4 linked regions of the Homo sapiens genome follow. The protein of the gene in region 3 interacts with the protein of the main gene of each other region in a pairwise test. Each region holds a gene or a part of one and is shown on either strand. Other genes may lie near its edges.

Region 1 (2,927 bases), on a different chromosome or scaffold from region 3:
AATACCCAAAACATCGACGGGCATGACCAAACCAAGCCACATGACAGTCGCCAACCTTGCCTGGCTCGCCTCTAGGGCTGAGGAAGCAGAGCCCCTGCCTCGTCTCACAGCCAGTCGGCAAGCAGAGCTCCCAAATCCAGCTCCTACATCAGCAGCAGCCCGGCCATCCAGAATCCACTTCCATTTTAATGACTTGGCTCCTCTGGGCCTGCAAACAGGAGGCTGGTCCAGGGACCTGGCCTGGGGATAGGAGTGGCGGCTCTGACAGGGCCGTGGGGCAGTCTCCGATGAGCACAGATCTGCACTCTCCTGACTAAAAGGGGTCACCGTGCAAGATGTCAGCTGGAACGGGGGCAGAAGGGATGCTGGGCTCTGTCACTAACAGTGCCAAGACACCAAGCTTTGCTGTTGACCGAGAGAGGCTCAGACAAAACACAGCTCAGTGACACTCTTAGGGCATGCATCCATGGAGCAGCAGGTCCCAACACCTGCCAGCCAGCTCCTAGGCAGACGCCACCCCAGGGCTAGCAAGGAACAGGAGTGGGAGGCCCATGTCTCTGGACACAGTGGAGGCTGCTCACAGCCAGGGAGGGCTGGCCTTCTCAGCTGAGTGACAGGGAGGCTGCTGTCCCTGACTGGTGGGTGGAGAACGACAGTCGTCTGTGCCCGAGGAGGAGGGGCTGCAGGTGAGCGCACCCCTAGGATAATGGGGGCCTGTCCTCAGTCCTGCTGTGGCCACCTGCCCACTAACGCCTCTCTACATCCCAGTCACCTTGTGAATGCATAAACAGGAACATGTACAACGGAAATGTCAGCGGGTGCTCAGGAGGGCTATGCCAGTGGCTACAGGAGAGGGAGCGTGGCCGGGGGCCCTGTCCACCACCCCGGACGCTGTCGCATGCAGCACAGGCCTTGCGATTCACATACTTTACACGGGCATAGAAAGAGTTACGTTAAAATTAATCTCTTTACTGATATAATTAAATTTTAAATCCTGAGAAGAAAAGAGAGAAGGGAGAATGGTGCCGGGTGTCTAGCACCCCCAGCCACTGGCCCAGCACAGGCCATGGCATCTGTGCATCCAGACACGGGGCGTGGCATGCACACCCCACCAGGGAGACCCAGGCCAGTGTTCCCAAAGCCTGCTCACGGCACCTTCTACTGCAGGACAGCAGAGGGGCCAACAGCCAGCCTGCAGGAGGGAGGACTTCTGGCCCAGATGCAAGAGCAGCTGCAACCTGGCAACAACCAGCAGGTGACTATCAGGAGAAAGGACCTGGTCACCCACATGGGGTGCAGCACAGCTGCTCCTGCTTTCTGGAAGGCCTCAGGCTCAGCCCCACCAGGACTGCAGACACTCCCTGCCTGGCCACTGCCACAAAGAGCACTTCTGCCACATGGCAGAGACACGCACGTTGCCTGGCCGCCCGCGGCATGTGCGGAAGCCCATAGGGACCAAGCTGGCTCGGTGGAGGCAGGGCACAAGGGCGCAGACTTCCAAAGGCTCCGGCCCCAGCTGCCGCCTCACAGTCTCTCCCACCATGGCGCTCAGCAGGTGGTGACCTTGTGGACATTTCGTAAACAAGTCAGCAGCCGGTGATATGGGCTTCCTGGGGCTGCAACCACCTCAAGCACAGACTGGAAGGCCCTGCGGTCGAGCTCCTCCTCTATCTGGTGTCTGTAGAAGTCTGTGGCGACCAGGCAGAAAAGGTTCACGTCCACCTGCTCCAGCTTGCCCATCCTGCTGATGACATGTGGGAGGCTGGTGCAGGAGTTAAGGAAAAAGGCCGGCAAATGAGGGGAATGCTGCCTCCCTGTCCTCACCTGGGAGTTCCTCTCCTGAAACAGTCTACAAAGGGGTCCAGGGAGCCTGGAGAGCGAGCAGAGCCCCGGAAGGGCCACCTGGATGCCTCCAGCTGCATCAGCGCCTCCACCTCCATTCCTGCAACCCTTGGCTGGCTGGATGCCCTGCAGGCAGGGCACCCACTCGGCAGCACTCACCTGGCCTGGCTCCTGTGCAGCGCTGGTGGCCGGTGCTTCCGCTGGCCTCCACTAGCCCTGCTCCAATGCAGTGAGGGCAGAGCCGTGCCAGGCACGCCGGGCAAGGCTGTGCTGTCAGCACCAGGACAACTGTGCTGCTTGGAGGCTCTTGTGGTCTGTCTTGGGGAAGGGCTGTGGAAAGGGAAACTCCTGGCAGCCAGCATCTGGGGGTGGGAACTGGATCTTTACTTAAGCCTTTCCCCGAGAGGGCGATCGAGGCACAATGACCAAAGCTAATGAGAAGCAGTGTCAGGAGAAGCCCAGCCACACAGAGCCCGCGAGTGGGCGGGACGTCTGCAGAGACCACCGCCCACCCTCGCTCCCCTCACCCAGGCCCTCCACAGAAAGGCCCCTCAGCTGCGACCCTCCTGCCATACACCGGCCCCTCTGAGAGGCCCTGGTCAGCAAATGTCTGGACGTGCTCCTTTCTGTACCCCTGTCAGCATTTTACTTCCCTGGGGCTGAGGGCCTGTCACCCTGGCATCTGTGGGGTTTTTGCAAAGGTTAGGTTTCAAAACCTTATCATGAAACATGAGCCTCGGTGTTGACAAGGGAAACGGGGCCAGCACCAGGGACCCAGAGAGGATACATCGCCGCGACCCACGGGCTGGTGGACGCGCTGACAAAGAAGCAGGAGAGGCTCCACGTGGCCATGGCGACCGGGGCCCTCTGCGTGAAGTTGGAGAGGGACAGCATGACCCAGTCCCGGACCATGGACGACTGCCCGGTGCTGTGCAGAGTCTGAAACACCTGCAAGGAGCAAGCAGGTGCCTGAGTGTCAGGGCTGGGGGGACGGGAAGCACCTGCTGCGCCTGGGTGGCGGGGGTGGGGTGGGGGCCAGAGGCATTGCTGCTTTAAAGCGGAGGAGCTGGGCTCTGCTGGCGAAT
Region 2 (3,539 bases), on a different chromosome or scaffold from region 3:
CCGAGGCAAGAGAATTGCTTGAACCCAGGAGGTGGAGGTTGCCGTGAGCCGAGATCGCGCCACTGCACTCCAGCCTGGGCAACAGAGCGAGAGACTCCATCTCTAAATTAAAAAAAAAAAAACCCTCAATTTTGGGGAGGTCAAATTTATTTACCTTTTCTTTTTTTCTTAATTTCATGTTAACTGTAAAACAATAAAACTCAACACTGGTTTAACACTCCCATTTGTCACTTTTTTAGAAACAGGAATTTTTAAAAAAGCATTTACCTTTGCTGCTTTCTTGTCTCCTTCAGTGCGTACACCTAGAAGCCGTCTAAGCAGGAAATAGGAAATTTCCAATTCTGTGAATATCTCAGGTAAAGCTCCGACTGCACCAAGTACTTGCCCCACCATTCTGTCAGCCCGGCACAAAGTGGGGTCAATTTTTGTTCCAACTCCTATATAAAAATAAGATGTATATAGCTCAATTTTTTATTTCCTAAAACACCTATAAAGTGAATTAGTTGGCCAGGTGCAGTGGCTCACACCTGTAATCCCAGCACTTTGGGAGGCCGAGGCAGGTGGATGCCTGAGCTCAGGAGTTAAAGACCAGCCTGGGCAACACGGTGAAACCCTGTCTCTATTAAAATACAAAAAATTAGCCAGGCGTGGCGGCGTGCACCTGTAGTCTCAGCTACTTGGGAGGCTGAGGCAGGAGAATCACTTGAACCCAGGAGGCAGAGGTTGTAGTGAGCCGAGATCGCACCACTGCACTCCAACCTGGGTGACAGAGTGAGACTCTGTCTCCAAAAAAAAAAAAAGTGAATTAGATACCCCAAAGCCATATAAGCACAGCATATACCTACACACTTTCATACTTTTATTTTTATACTCATATAATAGCTATATAGGTACAAGAAAATACCTGTTTTATCTAGACAAATAGAAATATACACTCATGAGATGACTGGGCAAATGAGAACAGAACGATTCTCTTGATTTAAATTCTAAACAAAGGGTTTAGAAATCTGATTTTCTAGGAATGATGGCTTGGCTGAGAACTTAATGCAGGAGATGGTAAGTATTACTGACCTGGTCTTGAAAACAATAAATTCTAAACAAAGGGCAAATAGAGATAATAAGTGAACTCAAAATGAGTCCGAATATCCTTAACAAAGACCGAAAGAATACAAAATTCAAAATGAGTAGTTTGCAGAATACCTGCATGCCATTTCTCCCCTGAAAGACTGATTGAAAAGATAGTTAAAGACTACATATGGGCCAGGCGCAGTGGCTCACACTTATAATCCCAGCACTTGGGGAGGCCCAAGTTGGAGGATTACCTAAGGTCAGGAGTTCAAGACAAGTCTAGCCAACATGGCAAAACCCAATCTCTACTAAAAATACAATAGCTGGGCATGGTGGCAGACACCTATAATCCCAGCTACTCGAGAGGCTAACGCAGGAGAATCACTTGAACCTGGGAGGCAGAGGTTGCAGTGAGCCGAGATCGTGCCACTGCACTCCAGCCTGGGCGACAGAGTGAGACTCTCAAAAAAAAAAAAAAAAAAAAAAACTACATATGATTCCTGGGATCTACTTCAAAATATTCTAGCTGTGTCTTGAGGGGAGTAGGGGAAAGAAGATATATAGATGGAGCAAGATTGATTGGGAAAACTTTTTTTTGCTGCTGTTGTTGAGACACAGTCTCTGTCGCCCAGGCTGGAGTGCAGTGGTGTGATCTCGGCTCACTGTGACCTGGGATTACAGGCTGGGATTACAGGCATGTGCCACCACACCTGACTAAATTTTTTTTTTTTTTTGTATTTTTAGTAGAGACAGGGTTTTTCGAACTCCTGACCTCAGGTGATCCGTCCACCTCGGCCTCCCGAAGTGCTGGGAATACAGACATGAGCCACCACGCCCAGCCAAGACTGGTAAAACATTAATAATTGCTGAAGCTGAGTGATGGCTCTATGGGGGTTATCATTACAGTATTCTATCCTATGTTTAAAGAGTTCCTTAGGCCAAGTGTGGTGGCTCACGCCTGTAATCCCAGTATTTTGGGAGGCCAAGGAGGGCAGATCACTTAAGACCAGAAGTTCGAGACCAGCCTGGCCAACATGGCGAAACCCCATCTCTACTAAAAATACAAAAATTAGCTGGCTGTGGTGGTATGTGCCTATAGTTCCAGCTACTCGGGAGGCTGAGGCAGGAGAATTAACTGAACCCAGGAGGCAAAGGTTGCAGCGAGCCGAGATAATACTACTGCACTCCAGCCTGGGTGGCAGAATGAGACTCTGCCTCAAAAAAAAAAAAAAAAAAAAAAGAAATTAAAAAAGTTCCTTAAGTTAAATTTTTAAAAAGTTTCCAGATTTCCCTTGTTTACCACACACATGCACACAAAAGATAAAATGATAGATGGAACTACAGGCACACACCACCAAACCCAGCTAATCTTACTATTTTATTGGAGAAATGGCATCTCATGGTTTCCTAGGCTGGTCTCAAACTCCTGGTCTCAAGCAATCTTCCCACCTCAGCTTCCCAAAGCACTGGAATTATGAGCATGAGCCACCATACCCAACCTGGTAAATTCATTTTTTCTTTTCTTTTCTTCTTGTTTTTTTTTTTTTTTTGAGACAGAGTGTCACTCTGTCACCCAGGCTGGAGTGCACTGGTGTGATCTCGGCTCACCCTCCGCCTTCTGGGTTCAAGCGATTCTCATGCCTCAGCCTCCCGAGTAGCCGGGATTACAGGCGTGGGCCACCACACCCAGCTAACTTTTGTATTTTTAGTAGAGACAAGGTTTTACCATGTTGCCCAGGCTGGTCTCAAACTCCTGAGCTCAAGCGATCCACCCACCTCAGCCTCCCAAATTGCTGGGATCACAGGCATGAGACACTGCGCCCAGCCAACCTGGTAAACTCTTTTTCATTTTTTTGTTTTCTTTTATTTCCTTTTTAAAATTTTCAACCAGAGACACAACTTATTGGGTGAAGAATTAACTGTTTCTTTACCAAACATTTTCTTCTTTAATCTAAAGGTACAACACCCCTTCTAATTCTCACTGAATCTTTCATTTTTCTGGGTATTGAGTAATACACTAAGTTGTAAGGGACTAGAAAAGTTTTTAAATCACTTCAGTAATTGCTACACAAAGAAATTTACTTTCTTTTATTTCTACCTCATTGGAAATACGACCTGATATCATTCAACTGACATTTGTAGGTAATTTTCCATTTGCAAAATATACATAAAAGCAACCATGGCCGGGCATGGTGGTTCACGCCTGTAATCCTAGCACTTTGAAAGGCCGAGGCAGGGGGACTGCCTGAGCTCAGGAGTTCAAGACCAGCCTGGGCAACACGGTGAAACCCCGTCTCTACTAAAATACAAAAATCTTAGCTGGGCCTGGCAGCATGTGCCTGTAGTCCCAGCTACTCGGGAGGCTGAGGCATAAGAATTGCTTGAACCTGGGAGGCAGAGGCTGCAGTGAGCCAAGATTGCACCACTGCACTCCAGCCTGGAGGACACAGCGAGACTCCATCTCCCAAAAA
Region 3 (3,539 bases):
TTTGGGGGAGACTCCCTGCCTGAATTCTGTCTCTCCGGGACAAAGGAGCTGATCCATTTCCTGCTCCCCCTCTGAGATGGAAAAGCTGGCTTCTTTAATTACAGTGTGGTCTGATGCCGGTGAAATACCAGAAACTGTCAGTAGATGGCAGTTGTATATAGACTTAGTGCAAGTCATTCGGGAAAAGGACATTGCTGGGCAACTAGGTCCCGCCGGAGCGTTCCAGCTCAAAGATTACCTGCTGCAGTCAGGCAGAAATGTAAAGTCTTTCCTGTTTGATTGGGAACTGACCCAGGTGCCAGGCTTGGGGGGACACCGGACAACCAAAGGCAATATGTGGACTCGGCAAGCCACTGGTCCCTAAACCTGAATAAGTTTCCGGGCAGAGCTGCATTTATTGACGGTTATGAAAGCTGGTCAGTGAAAGTGAAACCTGTATCTTTGGACCTCGGCATCGGCCGCTTAGCTCCCTGCTTATGCACTGTGGATGTCTCTCCCATGCCTGAGGACAGGCTGTGGGTGGATGTTTTGCACGGCTTGGCAGCTGTGCCGTCTATCATGGATTTGATAGGCCACTTGACAACAGAACTGGGATGGTGCCACTGTGTGGTGGACTTGGCCAATGCATTCCTCTTAATCGACATTGCTCCAGAGAGCCAGGAACACTTTGCCTTCGTGGGAGGGTGACAATGGACTTTCACAGTATTGCTGCAGGGATATATGCATAGCCCCAACATATGTCATGATCTTATTAATGATGTTATATTAACCTCTGATTCTCTTGCAGATTTAGAAGCAGCAACGCAGCCTCTTGCCTGGAATTGGGATGATGCGGCTGAAACCACCTTCCTGGCAGCCAAACAGGCTATTCAGCAGGCACAAGCCCTATGGGTAGCTGATCGGGGCACCCATTTAAACTTGATGTGCATGTGACCAGATAGTTTTGACTGGGGCTTATGGCATCACACAGAGCTCTTTAGAATGCCAGTAGACTTTTGGTCCCAACTTTGGAAGGGAGCTGAGCTCCAGTATTCCTCGACAGAGAAGCAGTTACTAACTGCATATGCTGCCCTTTAGACTCGTGACAGCCTGGCAGGATGGGCTACAGTCGTCGCGCGCATGACTTACCCAATAGCAGGGTGGGTATGCTCATGGGTAACAACCCACACACTGGGATGGCACAGACATCCACTTTTGTAAAGTGGGGTGCTTAAGCCTACTTGGAACAGCAAAGTATGCTAACTCAAGTCCCTTAGAAGCACAATTACAGGAAGTCTTAGGACCTACAGTCCTAATGCAAGATAAGGTTATGGGACCTGAGGCACCCCTAGATCCTGAGCCTTCACCTTTTAAGGAAGGGCATTCCCGCATTCCCAATGGGGCATGGTACACAGATAGGTCTAGCCAGGGTGCTACTGCTACCTGGACTGCTGTTGCAGCCCAGCCTAGTACCAACACCCTATGGTTTGATACCAGGTGTGGACAAAGTAGCTAATAAACTGAACTCAGGGCAATGTAAATGGTGATCACCAAGAAGGTGACACGTAATCTGCACTGATAGCTGGGCAGTTTATCAAGGCTTAACCTTGTGGCTAACTACCTAGAAGTTACAGAAGTGGCTAGTCACCGACCCATGTAGGGCCAGGCCATGTGGCCAGATCTATGAGAGAAAGGATGACTTCCTCCAACCAGGTATGGGGACAAACAGTAACCTGTTGTTGCCCGCCCCAACACCCTAAAGGTAGGGAAGCAAAAACCCTGGATTAATATATAAAGCAACATTGGGGTAACATCACCATGTAGTGATTGCTCACTATAACCTGAAATTATTGCTCCCTGTATTACTGTGGCCCAAGTGCCCAGAGCTTATGTGTCAGGCTTATGTGTCAAGCCTCTATGTATACATTGGGCCTGTGTGCCCAGAGCCTATGTGTCAGACTTATGTGTCAAGCCTGTGTGTATCAGCCCTGGGTGCCCAAAGTTTATATGTCAGGCCTGTGTGCCAAACCTATATATTGGGCCTGTGTACCCAAAAACCTATGTCTCCCTCGGCCAAGGGGGTGGAGTGTAAGGTAAATGGATGTGCTTTGGTCAAGAATAGGCCGAGGCAGATATGCAGGCCAGCGTGACTCAGCGAGTTTGGAACGCAGGCGCACCACTCCACTTGTTATATAACCTGTTTGTGTAAGCTCATACTTGGCTTACAGCCACTATTGTCTGTAAATGGTATAATTGCCCTGCTGACACTGTACATAGGACTTGTGCCCAGAGAGAGAGAGAAAAACTGCTGACCCTGTAAGAGAGAACTGGCCATCTTGCAGACAGACAGAGGTGAGCCAGGAATTAACAAGCATGCCAAGGAGTACAGCTGTAAGTGTGGGAGCGGCAGGAGCCACAGAGCCGTTTGCTGAGAAGGGCTGCGGTCGGAGGAGGCAGCCGAGACAGAGGCAGACAGTGTGAGAGCTGCAGCAGCTGCTGCTGAATAAAATCATATTTTACCTGCCTACAGCCCCGAGTGTTCTTTCAACTACCTGCCACCCATCCAACAACTCCCCTCGGACCTCAGTATGGGCTGGAACCTGACACTTGGCATGACAGTGGTAAGTACCATATACATGTTGGCTAATAGTATAATTCACTGGTCTTTCTTTTTTTAAATAAGAGTAGGCCTGGTGGTTCTGTTCTTGACCTTTTCTTTTCTCTATCCACAGTCTTCCCCAGAACTATCTTTAATCACTCGCAAGGTTTTAACTTCTATTTCTAGGCTGTAGACTCCTGATCCCTATCCTGAGCTGCCTCCCAGACGGTCCTATATGGAAATCTTGCAAACAAATCCAATTCAATATGCCCCAAATCAAAGTGATTTTCTTGCTTCCTAATCTACTCCTTCCTCAGTATGGTATTATCTAGAAACAACAGCACCAGCCATCAGGTTTCGTCAGAGTCATCACTTTGTAATGGATGATTTCTGTATTTTAGGAGGGAAAAGTAAGATATTCTGAAAGAGAGCCTATCCCAGAAGCCATGAGACCTGGGCCTGATCTAAGAGGGAAGGGAAACCTGAGATTCCTGTGAACCAGCTGGGACTAGATTTTAAACTAGAAGTGAGTGACTGCAAAATTATTTGACTGGACTCGGATGTCAGTAAGTCCCTCTTTACTCAGTGGAATGGAGAGGCTAGAAAATGTAAGGCTGGGCTGGGCGCAGTGGCTCACGCCTGTAATCCCAACACTTTGGGAGGCTGAGGTGGGCACATCATGAGGTCAAGAGATCGAGACCATCCTGGCCAACATGGTGAAACCCCGTCTCTACTAAAAATACAAAAATTAGCTGGGCGTGATGGCATGCGCCTATAGTCTCAGCTACTTGGGAGGCTGAGGCAGGAGAATCGCTTGAACCCGGAAGGCGGAGGTTGCAATGAGCCAAGATCGCACCACTGCACCTGCACTCCAGCCTGGCAACAGAGCAAGACTCTGCCTCAAAAAAAAAAAAAAAAAGAAAAAGAAAAGAAAAGAAATGTAAGGCTGGTAGAGGTTACA
Region 4 (2,802 bases), on a different chromosome or scaffold from region 3:
TCGTCCTGCAATTGCCGCTTCTCCTGCTGCAGCTGGAACACCTGCAGCTGCAGCAGCTGTTGGGCCCGCTGTGCCCGCTGTGCCTGGGCCGCACAGTCCTCTCGCAGGGCCTCACGCTCTCGCTGCCAGTGCCGCTGCCGCTCCTCGTATGCCTGCAGGCGAGAAGAGAGACCTGGCTCCTGGGCAGTTTTCCCAACTCCCCACTCAGTGTCTGCTCTGGCAGCCCACTTCCGAGGGCTCAGGAAGGGTGGATTCCATTAAACAACAATAGTAATTGCAACAACAATACTAACTGCTTTTATGATGATCATAGAAACAAACACAAGAGCAAGCAGACCGGGCTCGGTGGCTCACGCGAGGTGGGTGGATCACTTAAGCTCCGGAGTTCGAGACCAGCCTAGGCAACACAGCAAAACCCTGCCTCTCCAAAGACCAAAAATTAGCTTGGTGTGGTGGCATGCGCCTGTAGTCTCAGCTACTTGGGAGGCTGGGGTGAGAGGACTGCTTGAGCCCAGGGGGTTGAGGCTACAGGGAGCTGAAATCACGCCACTGCTCTCTAGCCTGGGTGACAGAATGAGACCTTGTCTCAAAAAATAAAAAAAGCAAGCACTTGGCCGGGTGCAGTGGCTCACGCCTGTAATCCCAGCACTTTGGGAGGCCGAGGCAGGTGAATCACTTGAGGCCAGGGGTTCGCGACCAGCTTGGCCAACATGGTGGAAACCCTGTCTCTACTAAAAATAAAAAATAATAAAAAATTTTAAAAAAGGCAAGCATTTATATAGCACTTCCTAGGTACCAGGCATTAGTCTAATCACTTTACACCTTTTGCCTTATTTAATCCTCATAATAATCCTACGAAGCTAGAAATATCCCTATATAGATGAAGAAATAAAGGCTGAGTAAAGTTAAGCAACTTGCTCAAGCCCAAAAACTAGTATTTGGCAGTGGGAGGTTTGAATCCATGCACTCTGACTCCTTTCCACCCCACAAGTTTTGTTTTTTGTTTTGAGATAGAGTCTTGCTCTGTCGCCCAGGCTGGAGTGCAATGGTGGAATGTCAGTCCATTGTAACCTCCTCCTCCTGGGCTCCAGTGATCCGCCCACCTCAGCCTCCCAAGTAGCTGGGACTACAGGTACATGCCACCACACTTAGCTAATTTATTTTTAGTAGAAATGGGGTTTCCCCATGTTACCCAGGTTGGTCTCAAACTCCCGAGCTCAAGCAATCCGCCCACCTCGGCCTCCCAAAGTGCTGGGATTACAGATGTGAGCCACCACACCTGGCTACTCCACACATTAAACCAGACAACTGGTGGGGAGGGCAGGGGGGTCACAACTACAACTACCCAACCCCCGTTCCCTGCCAAAATGGAAATGCCGCTTGCATCCCAGGGCCTTGGGATGTCCTGCCATGCCCCTTCCCCATCATTGCCTCTGACCACACCTGGCACATGGTAGCCTCATTCTCGTCCAGACTGTCCCGCAGCTGCTGAAGCTCTGCCTCCCGGTCTCGGAGCTTTCCTTCCAGGACACAGTGCAGCAGGGCCTCATCCGAAGGAGGTGGAGGCGGGGGTGGTGGTGAGCGCTCCCCACAGGAGCTGCTGTCAGGGGAGGCCCGAGTACCACTGCCCAAAAGCCCCCCAGCCACACGGCCCCCTAGGGAGCCTGTGCTCTTGCTGGAGGAGGACCGGCCACTGTCTGAGTGGGAGGGCCCAGTAGGGACCCCTCGGGCTGGCCCAGGCAGTGCCCCTCGCCCAGAGCCATGGGAAGGCAGGTGCCCGCCTGGGGAGCTGGTGGTTGGCTCGGCACCTCCGGTGCTGTAGGTGGGCAGGCTGGACAGTGAGTTTCGGCCAGAGTCGGATAGCGTCCCTGATGGGCAGCCACTGGCCCAGCCACTAAATGCCAGGGGTTTGTCAGCAGCTGAAGAGGAGGAGGAAGAGGAGGAGGAGGAGGCAGGGCCCCCAAACAGCTGCGTCAGGCTGCCCTGGCTCCCAGACAGCCCGGTGGCCCGAGGACCCATGAAGCTAGGCAGGGACGGAGCCCCTCGAGGTTTGGGCAGCACTGGCTTGAAGGCTGTTGGGCGGATCAGGATCTTCTCCATGTTCTGAAATGAGGTGCCATGTGACACTGGAGATGAGCTGCCCAATCTTGCAGAGCCCTTATGACACTCCCTGCCCTCCCGTCTTGGGTCCCCAGTGCCCATATATTCATAACAATTGCGGCCACTGGTGGAGGTGGCCACCAGTGTCAGCTTTGTGTCAAGCAATTTGAAAAGTTTATCTCCATTATCTAAATATGATCACTATCCCCATATTACAGATGAGGAAATGGAGGCTCAGCAAGGTTAAAGGCCTTGCCCAAAGTCAAACGTATAACTGGTGCAGAATAACCAGAACGTAAGCAACTAGCACTTACTGCGTACATGCTACGTGCTAGGCACTATGCTATACATTATTTGACCTTCATGTCAGTTCTAGAAACTGAGGCTCAGGTTAAGTGACTTCCCTGAGGTCACACATCCAGAATGAGAGAGAGCTGGGATTAGGACCCAGGTCTGGTGAATCTGGAGCCCACACTCTTTCCTCTATATAAGCTTCTAAATTCCAGTTTCCCAAGCGAGGACTCCCGTTCTACCCAGGCCCACAAGGAAGAGCCGGTCCTCACCTTCTCCAGCTTTCCAGAGACAGGGATGAGCTTTGGTGGTGGGCCGCGGAGGTGGGCATTGTGTGCCCGCTGCTCTCGGGCATCCTCAACATCACTGCTTGGGCTGGGGGGTGACTCTGTCCGGAAGTCCTCATTGATG

Evidence for each region.
Region 1: the proteins of ZKSCAN3 (region 3) and HTT interact in binary tests that used the Homo sapiens proteins (3 or more experiments, as listed by UniProt).
Region 2: the proteins of ZKSCAN3 (region 3) and EIF2S3 interact in binary tests that used the Homo sapiens proteins (3 or more experiments, as listed by UniProt).
Region 4: the proteins of ZKSCAN3 (region 3) and LZTS2 interact in binary tests that used the Homo sapiens proteins (3 or more experiments, as listed by UniProt).

The regions. Positions count from the first base shown.
Region 1 is NC_000004.12:3,238,681-3,241,607, reverse strand, and holds part of HTT (huntingtin), read right to left. Parts: intron 2,791-2,927; coding exon 2,630-2,790; intron 1,763-2,629; coding exon 1,549-1,762; 3' UTR 1-1,548.
Region 2 is NC_000023.11:24,068,456-24,071,994, reverse strand, and holds part of EIF2S3 (eukaryotic translation initiation factor 2 subunit 3), read right to left. Parts: intron 438-3,539; coding exon 268-437; intron 1-267. UniProt on the Homo sapiens protein: Member of the eIF2 complex that functions in the early steps of protein synthesis by forming a ternary complex with GTP and initiator tRNA.
Region 3 is NC_000006.12:28,352,923-28,356,461, reverse strand, and holds part of ZKSCAN3 (zinc finger protein with KRAB and SCAN domains 3), read right to left. Parts: intron 3,105-3,539; exon of another isoform or gene 2,980-3,104; intron 2,601-2,979; coding exon of another isoform or gene 2,568-2,600; exon of another isoform or gene 2,510-2,567; intron 2,332-2,509; exon of another isoform or gene 2,258-2,331; intron 1,140-2,257; exon of another isoform or gene 788-1,139; intron 417-787; exon of another isoform or gene 191-416; intron 1-190. UniProt on the Homo sapiens protein: Transcriptional factor that binds to the consensus sequence 5'-[GT][AG][AGT]GGGG-3' and acts as a repressor of autophagy. Specifically represses expression of genes involved in autophagy and lysosome biogenesis/function such as MAP1LC3B, ULK1 or WIPI2.
Region 4 is NC_000010.11:101,002,808-101,005,609, reverse strand, and holds part of LZTS2 (leucine zipper putative tumor suppressor 2), read right to left. Parts: coding exon 2,664-2,802; intron 2,104-2,663; coding exon 1,444-2,103; coding exon of another isoform or gene 1,342-1,443; exon of another isoform or gene 1,134-1,341; intron 153-1,133; coding exon 1-152. UniProt on the Homo sapiens protein: Negative regulator of katanin-mediated microtubule severing and release from the centrosome. Required for central spindle formation and the completion of cytokinesis.